Regions from separate parts of the Homo sapiens genome. Here region 1 is linked to region 2. Evidence: fine-mapped expression QTL. A gene starts in region 2. The other region holds a variant in brackets. All regions are shown on one strand. Distances are between the middles of the regions.

Region 1 (4,391 bases), 88 kb after region 2:
ATTAATTTGTCTGCTATAAATATCAACCCATTATGACTGAGGTCTTGTCATTTTGTCTTCCACCTATTTTGAAACTTTGTTAAGTGACTACAAATCCAAGATTATTTGATAACACTGAGGAACTGTGTCCTTTATGTAGTGGTCCTCTTCATCCTTACTAATTTTTTTCTTTTTTGAGACTGAGTCTCACTATGTTGCCCAGGCTCCGGTGCAGTGGCCATGATCTTGGCTCACTGCAAACTTCGCCTCCTGGGTTCAAGCAATTCTCCTGCCTCAGCCTCCCAAGTAGCTGGGATTACAAGCATGTGCCACCATGCTCGGCTAATCTTTGTATTTTTAGTAGAGATGGGGTTTTGCCGTGTTGGCCAGGCTGGTCTTGAACTCCTGACCTCAAGTGATCTGCCCACCTCAGCCTCCCAAAGTGCTGGATTACAGGCGTGAGCCATCGTGACTGGCTCTTTATTTTTTATTTTTAAGTTTGCAATTACCGGTTTCCTTCTACAGGGATATCATTACTTTTTCTTGTGAGAGCCCCACGTTGTCATAAAGGTTTTGCTACCCAGGCATTTGGCATTGGCCTCTGTGGATATTCAAAGGATTTCACAGGTCCAGGACCAGGTTTTTGATGGATTTCTTGGCTAGGAGATTTGGCATCATGCAAGTGGTAGTAAATTCAGATCCTACACCTGTGAATGGTGCAAATTTGGGGCTCTAGCTACTCAAATTGGTGCCCAACTCTACCTGCACGCCCACACATCCACACACCCAGTTACAGGTGGGGTGGAGCTCCTAACAGCACCCTGGGCAGAACACTGCTTCCTCTGGGCAGCTCCCTGGGCCCTGGCCTCATGCAAGTTCCCCTGTTCAAACTCCCTCCCCAACTTGATGCACTCCAAGACCACCTCCTAACCTCTAGCCCTCCCACCCCTAGCCCCTGGAGCCTGTGTCTCATCTGGTGCACCCTGGGCCCCCGGCGTCAGCTCTGGTTGCTGATTCATTTGTGGCACCTGAAGATTTCTCTTCCTGTCTGTCATCTTTCTACTCAGTATTTTATTTGGGTGGGGCGGGAGGGGAATTGTGTTTTCTCCAACATTTTTTGGTCTCCACGGTGGGAGCACAGACCCATGTCCCAGAGTTACCAATCTCCACAGGTCACTATAATTGGAAATGTCCCCTCAGGTTTAAAACAGATTTAAACATTTACCAAACTCATACTATGTGCCAGATACATACATTCCATATATATAAAAACACATATACATATATAATAGTGCACACACACATATGCACATAGACATATATACATATCACACATAGCATATATTCATATATACATATGTAGCACATATATACACATAGAGCACATAGCTCTATACACAGCACATATACCTATACACAGTAAACACACATATATGTATACCCATGTACACGGACACACCGAGCACATATATAACGATGACCACGAACTCACAGTTGTGGGTAGGAAACACACAGTTAAAGGCAGTCCTACCCTACAGCTCAGGGTGTGTCTAACAAGGTGAGGGACTCAGAGGGTAGGACTCAGGTGGGAAGGGGAGCTGGGGGGAGCCAGGTGAGGGAGCGGGGTGCTGGCTGCAGGAGAAGTGTGCGTGCACGTGGCTGGGTACCAGGGTCAGGCCCTTCCCAGGCGGGCTTGGGCACCGGCTGCCTGATCCCTCTCCAGCTTGTTGGGGAACCCCCTTCTAATGCCATGGAGCCTGGCCTCTGCCTCTGGGTCACCTGTGCACCCACATGACCGCTGCAGGACGACGCGGGTCTACTCCATGTGGATTCAGGGGTGTTTGGGCAGTGCTCTGTGGGGAAGGGAGACCAGGGGCCCCGAAGCTCTGAGAGAGGAGGGTGCAGACACATGCTGCTGTCCCACGGTCCTTGTACTTATACTTCTGATGGGTCTTCCCAGGCCATTGTCCCCCACCTGCCACCTTCCCCATCCCCCACTCTGCTCTGGGTGTCTGGACAGGGTGGTGATGTCCAGTGGGGCTCAGAGGCCCTCAGGGCGCCTGGCTTCCTCTTGGGGGTCACCAGGGAGCCCCTTGCAGACATTTCCCAAGGGCCCGCAGTGTGTCAGGGGCTATTCCAGGTACCAGGGTGCTGGAGAGAAAGAGACAGGCCCCTCCTTGCACCTGTGGATGCCGTTCTGCAGGAGAGACGGTCCCTGAGCAGGGACAGCAAGGTGGCTTCAGCCTGGCACCTGTGAGGGTGATGGCGAGAGCTGTGATGGGGGCCTTTTTTTTTTTTTTTGACACGGAGTCTTGCTCCGTCACCAGGCTGGAGTGCAGTGGCGCGATCTCAGCTCACTGCAACCTCCGCCTCCTGGGTTCAAATGATTCTCCTGCCTCAGCCTCTCCAGTAGCTGGGATGACAGGTACACGCCACCATGCCCAGCTAATTTTTGTATTTTTAGTAGAGACAGGGTTTCAGTATGTTGGCCCGGCTGGTCTTGAACTCCTGACCTCAGGTGATCCGCCCACCTGGGCCTCCCAAAGTACTGGGATTACAGGTGTGAGCCACCGTGCCCGGCCTTGATGGGGGCCTTTATGCGGAACCCTGATGGGTTGCAAAGGGATAAGGGTTGGAGGTGGGGCGTGTGTTAGGGAGATGGCCCCAGAGGACCCCTCCCGG[T/G]GGGGAGATGCTCAGCTGCAGGGACCCCTGAGAGAGTGCAGGTGACATTCGAAGGAATGTGTGGTCATGGGTGGGGTAGGGGAACAGAGAAATGACAGGGAGGCTGATCTCTCCATTTACTGGAACGACGTGATTGTGTGCTGTATTCGAGGATAGTGATTCAGTGGACAGGGGACTCCTGATGCGTGGGAGAGGCCGCAGCTGCAGGAATGATTTCCTGGGGAGGTGTCGAGAGGAGAGGGGACCTAGCCCACAGTCGGGAGCTTGGCCAGCTAGGAGCTGAGACATCAACATCATCAGGAGGAGGCGCAGAACCAGGCGTGGGTCAGCCAGGGACTTGAGGGGGGGAGGTGACACTCCCTGGCATCCTCTTGCTCCTTGATAGCAGGAGAGTGTCAAGTATTGGGGCTGAGGAAAGGAAGAGGTACTTGGGGTGGAGGGGTTGAGAGACAGGAGCCCTTATCCCAGCCGAAGTAGAATAATGAGCTGTGGCTATTTTCTAGTAAAAGCCAACACATACGTGAAAACTGGCCACATCAGTGGAGATGCCTGGCTTCTCTGCAGTGACGTGAGCTTCAGGATGCAGGGGTGAGTGGGGAGGTGGAGGGTGGGGGAGAGTACGTGTCTCTGCCACCCCTGAATCAGGGGCTGGCATACAGTGGTGCTCAATAAATGTTTGTGGCTTGGCCCCTGGATTAAGCGCCCCGCAGCGCTTAATGAACTCCTGAACTCCCGGCCCTCCTTCCCTCGTCTCTGCAGATGGAGTGAGTTCAGCCAGCATGTCGGCTGGATGGGTGGGCACCGCGTCTGACTTGATCCCTCTGTCTGTCCACCTGGTCCCTAGTGTGAGTCCAGCTGCACCGTTTCGTAAGCCCCCTGCCACTGCGCAGACCCTGGTGAAAGTGAAACATTCCACGGGGATTTGGGCTGTGAGAAACAGCCTGCCTCTTATCATATTCTGCTGGGAGAAAGTGCAAGCAACACCCCCATGATCTTATCAATATCCTGCCAGGCAGCAAGCCATATTGCCCAGACCCCTCCCACCCATACCTATAAGTACCCCAGCCTGTAAGCGGTGGTGGGCTCTGGCATCAAGCTGGTCCCCCACCTCCGCAGGTTTTTACAATATACCTGCGTTTCCTGTAGAGCCGCCACTCTCTCTGTGTGTGTGTGTCTTTCCTTAACCCTCACCTCCCCTTTAAAAAACCTAACACTAGGCCAGGCACAGTGGCTTACACCTGTAATCCCAGCACTTTGGGAGGCCGAGGCAGGTGGATCAACGAGGTCAGGAGTTCGAGACTAGCCTGGCCAATATGGTGAAACCCTGTCTCTACTAAAAAATACAAAAATTAGCCAGGCGTGGTAGTGGGTGCCTGTTGGGCACTGAGTAGCTGGTGGGTCCCAGCTACTCGGGAGACTGAGGCAGGAGAACCACTTGAATCCAGGAGGCAGAGGTTGCAGTGAGCCCAGATGACGCCATTGCACTCCAGCCTGGGCAATAGACCGAGACTCCGTCTCAAACAAACAAACAAAACAAAACAAAACAAAACCTAACACGTAGTACCATGCCTGCAGGTAGTAAATGTTCAACAAGACTTGCTGACGGATGAATGAGTGTGCAGACCAGCAGGTTATACACTGGCTGTTTCCTGTAGGGGGCTGAATGGTGGTCCCTAAAGATAGGTCCCTGTTCCAGAACCCGTGAATGTGACTTATTTGGAGGTAAGGTC
Region 2 (4,370 bases):
CCTCCAGAGGCTCCTCATTTCTTCCCATGCCTGCTTCTCCCACACTCCTCCCTCTCACATGAGGGCAACTTCATCCTCCCAGTTGCTCAGGCCCCAAACCTCCATCAGTTTTGACTCTTCTCTCGCACACTACTCAGTCAACCCATTGGCAAATCCATCCCACTATTAAAAACTTAGCAGGCTTCTGTACCTAATTTGCTTCTAGCTTTGTTTTTGGGTCCCCAGGGAACAAACAGTCTCCTTCCTCTCCCACAGGATTTCCTTTAGGTAGTCCTAGAGACTGTGACTGTGTACTTCCATCACGTCTCCTTTGCTCACTCTTCAAGGCCCCAGCTGCTCACTGTTTTGGTCACCTTGTCTCTACTCGCTTCACTGTGTGTCTTTCTCTCCTAATGCGTGAGTCTGTACTTGAACATAGCATTGGAGGGGTGGTTTCATGTAGGTAGGTAGAATGGAGTAAGTCCCACTGCTTTTGTAAAAACTTTCCTGCCTACTTAAACCTAAGTTTTATTATGGAAAATGTCAAGCATACAAAAGTAAAGAGAACAGAATAGTGAACTCTCTCAATTATCCCTTTCCAGGTTCAACAGTTACCAACTCATGGCCAATTTTGGCATCTACATTGCCTCTGGCCCAACTCTGTGATTATTATTAATTTCTTAATAGACTTTATTTTTTAGCACAGTTTTAGTTTCACACCAAAATTGAGTGGAAGGTACAGAGAGTTCCCATATGTCCCCTGTCCATGTGCCCACAGCTTCCTATCAACATCCCTCACCAGAGTGGTACAATCTTTACAATTGATGAACCTACATTGACACATCATTGTTATCCAAAGTCCATAGTCTACATTAGGGGTTCACCCTTGGTAGTGTACATTCTATGGATTTGGACAAACTTATAATGACATGTATCTACCATTATATCATACAGAATAGTTTCACTGCCCTAAAAATCCTCTGAGCTCCACCTATTTATCCTTTTCTCCCCCAATCCTCTTACCCCCCATGTAACTTTTTACTGTCTCCTTAGATTTGCCTTTTCCAGAATGTCATAGTGGGAAACATACAAGATGTCCCCTTTTCAGGTTGGCTTCTTTTACTTAGTAACATGTATGTAAGTTTCCTCCATGTCTCTTCATGACTCATTTCTTTTTATTGCTGCATAATATTCTACTGTATGGATGTCCTACAGTTTATGTAACCATTCATCTCCTGAAGGACATCTGGGTTGCTTCCAAGTTTTGGGAATTATGGTACTATTCTTTTAATATCGTCCAATATAGAGTTAGATCCAGTTTTCCATTTTTGGGGGTCATGGTGAGACATGAAACCCAGGTTTAAAACATACATAAACACTCATGCACACAAATACACACTCCAACCATTTTCAAGCAGAGATTTATAGAGTTTTTAACGGACATAACCTTTTTGGAGCCTCGTATCAGCCCAGCGCCTTAAATACGGCTGTTTCTTTTGCAGAATGAGTTCAGATTAGGCGAGGATATCCATCACCATTTTTCAGACCAGCTCGCAGCCTGGGGGCAGTGGTTCAAGCACAGGCTTTGGAGCCGAAATGACTGCGCCTGAAGTACTCTTCTTCCACTTCCCCGCTGTGTGACCCTGGGCACGTTACCTAGCTCCTCTGAGCCTCACTCTTCTCCCCCATAACATAGGGCCTATACCAAAGTTCAAGGGCTATTGTCAGTATTCAGGCTACTAACTGAAGGAATCAAAATCTGAACCTGGGTTCCCCCGACTCCAAAACCCGTGCTATATTCACCACAAATGCGATCAACACACAAGGCACCAGGTCGGACCCAGGCACATACGTGGCGAGACCGCAGGGAGCAGCGCTCGCTCTGCGTCCTCCCTTCCTCCCATATCCCAGGTCTCACCTGCTCCGGGCCCCGAAGGTCTCAGGATGCTGTGGCTGCACGCGGACGCCAGCCGCCCTAAGGTGACCGTCAGGGAAGATGCTGCCATGGCCGCAGCCTCGGCCGGAAACGGAAACGACGCGAACCGCGTGCGTAACGCACGGGCCCGGCGGGGAACACCGGTCCGCTGTAACACCGGCCCGGCGCAGAAGCGGGACGTCGGCTTCTAGGGGCCCAGGCCGGCGGCGGCGATGGCCTCGGCAGCTGTGGAGAGCTTCGTGACCAAGCAACTGGACCTGCTGGAGCTTGAGAGAGACGCGGAGGTGGAGGAGCGCAGGTACGGGAGGCCGCCGGCGCCGCTCCCTCGCGGTCGGTCCCGCCGTGTCCCGGGCAGAGTCTCCGAGGGGCTCGGCCTCATAGTCTGGGGCGGGAATTTCGTCTCCGACCCTTCGAGTCAGGGGCAGGGATCGTCCGTCCCCTGCTTGGCCACCTCCCGAGTTGTCAGTCTCATCACTTCCTGGGCAGCGCGTTCCGTTTGGGGACCCTTAAGAAGCACTTTGATTTCCCGACCCGAGACCCCCCACTAAGCTTACACTCCTGGGCCCTGGCCCCGACCCCAGTTCCACCCGCAGCGAGTTAGCAGCCCTTTCCCTTATTCATTCAGTAAACATGGTTTGCGCCCATTCTCAGTCAGGCCCCGGCAGCATGAGTCAGGTGCACTGGCTGCCCCCGATCCGGCCAGCGGCGGGCTGGGCATAAGCAGAGAGTCCCTTCCCCTCCAGTGCGTCCAGGGCCGGCTGCGTGCGTGTCGCGGGGAAAGAGCCTGGAGGAGGAAGGCCCTTCCCTGGGGAGGGTCATGGTGGCTTCAAGGAGGGAGTGGTGCCTGAAGGAAAATTGGAGTTAAGCTGGTGGGTGCGGAGTAGGGTGGGGAGCCGTCCTGAGAGGTGTGGGGAGCCATGTGAGAGCCGGGCTTGTTTCCGAATGGGACTATTTACTTGTCCAAAACAATCAGAGCTAACACTTACGTACTTTCCATGCGTTAATTCTTTTACACCTCATCCCATGCCAACCCTACAGTGTAAGTTTCTTTTTTTTCTTTTTCTTTTTTTTTTTTTTAGACAGAGTCTCTCTCTGTCGCCCAGGCTGGAGTGCAGTGGCACGATCTCGGCTTACTGCAGCTTCCATCTCCCGGGTTCAAGCGATTCTCCTGCCTCAGCCTCCTGAGTGGCTGGGACTACAGGCGCGCCACCACGTCCTGCTAATTTTTTGTATTTTTAGTAGAGACAGGGTTTCACCATGTTGGCCAGGATGGTCTCGATCTCCTGACCTCGTGGTCTGCCCGCCTTGGCCTCCCAAAGTGTTGGGATTACAGGCGTGAGCCACCGTGCCCGGCCGCAGTGTAGGTTTCTGTTACTGTCATTTTCCGTCTAAGGAGATGGAGACAGAGAGGGGTTAAGTAACTTGCCCCGGGGTGACACAGTGTAGCCCGATTTGCTGTCAGGCAGTCTGCTTCCAGAGTTTGCAGTCAGCCATATGTGGGTAGGATTTGTCTGAGATGCTTTTGATCATGGCAATGGAGAGCTTTTGCAGTTATGTTGAGTTTCTTAGAATCCCAGCTGTTTCATTTATGGCTGTGTGACTTTGCAGGTTCTGTCTCTGAGCCTTACTTACTTCATCTGTAAAACTGGGATGATTCCCACCTCACAGGCTTGCTCTGAGAATGAAACGATCCCCTGTCAGTCAGGTGCTCAGCGTGGTGCCAAGGACAGAGTCAGCCCCCATGGCAGTGGCTCTTTCTGAGGATGCTGAGCAGACTGGCAGGGCGAGCCTGGGAAGGGCCTGGCTAAGGAGCTAGTCTTCTGTTCTGTGTATGAAGGATGGGCCATCAGCGGGGTTAAGCAGGTGAGGGAGGCGAATAGCTTTGCATTTTAGGAGGATTTCTTGGGTCTCCTGCTTTTGATTGGACGTGGAGAGGCCAGAGGTAAGGTAGTTGAGAGGCTCTGTTTAGTCCAGGTGAGCAGTGATGTGGATTTGAACCGGGGCTGTGGCAGCCAGGATGAGAGGCAGAGAAGTCCAGGTAGAAATGGGAGGGGCCTGATAGGACTTAGTGACAGATGGGAGGAGAGAGGGGAATGCTGATTGAAAGATCTGTCTCAGGTAACTGAGAGAAGGGTTGTGGCATTAACTGCCCTAGGGGGATGTAGGAGGAGCGGGATTGGGAGTGGAGCCAATTCGGAGTTCCATTGGGACATATTTAGTGCCTGTGAGTAGATCTTTATCTATGTTTCTTTCTCTTTTACTTTTCCTGGGTGGGTGGAAGTAGAAACTAGTAAAAATCCTGAAGCATCAATACCGGGTGTCTTCCAGGTCCTGGCAGGAGAACATCTCTCTGAAAGAGCTCCAGAGCCGAGGCGTGTGTTTGCTGAAGCTGCAGGTATCCAGCCAGCGCACTGGGCTGTACGGACGGCTGCTGGTCACCTTTGAGCCCAGGCGA

What was found. PIP is the estimated chance that this variant, and not a neighbour inherited with it, causes the effect.
Region 1: its variant is the best candidate, but not a certain one, in a credible set for the expression of IGHMBP2 in cerebellar hemisphere (GTEx, PIP 0.72).

The regions. Positions count from the first base shown.
Region 1 is chr11:68,989,512-68,993,902 of GRCh38, forward strand. No RefSeq gene overlaps it. Among named protein-coding and RNA genes, the nearest start is that of MRGPRD, 11 kb to the left of the region's middle. The variant T/G (reference allele first, on the strand shown) is at 2,662.
Region 2 is chr11:68,901,826-68,906,195 of GRCh38, forward strand. It overlaps IGHMBP2 (immunoglobulin mu DNA binding protein 2), which reads left to right and starts at 2,066. Exons shown (of 15, transcript NM_002180.3): 1 at 2,066-2,213; 2 at 4,244-4,370. The coding sequence starts at 2,128. It overlaps MRPL21 (mitochondrial ribosomal protein L21), which reads right to left and starts at 2,007. Exons shown (of 7, transcript NM_181514.2): 1 at 1,898-2,007. The coding sequence starts at 1,985. RefSeq lists enhancers at 1,880-2,607, 2,039-2,158, 2,489-2,548.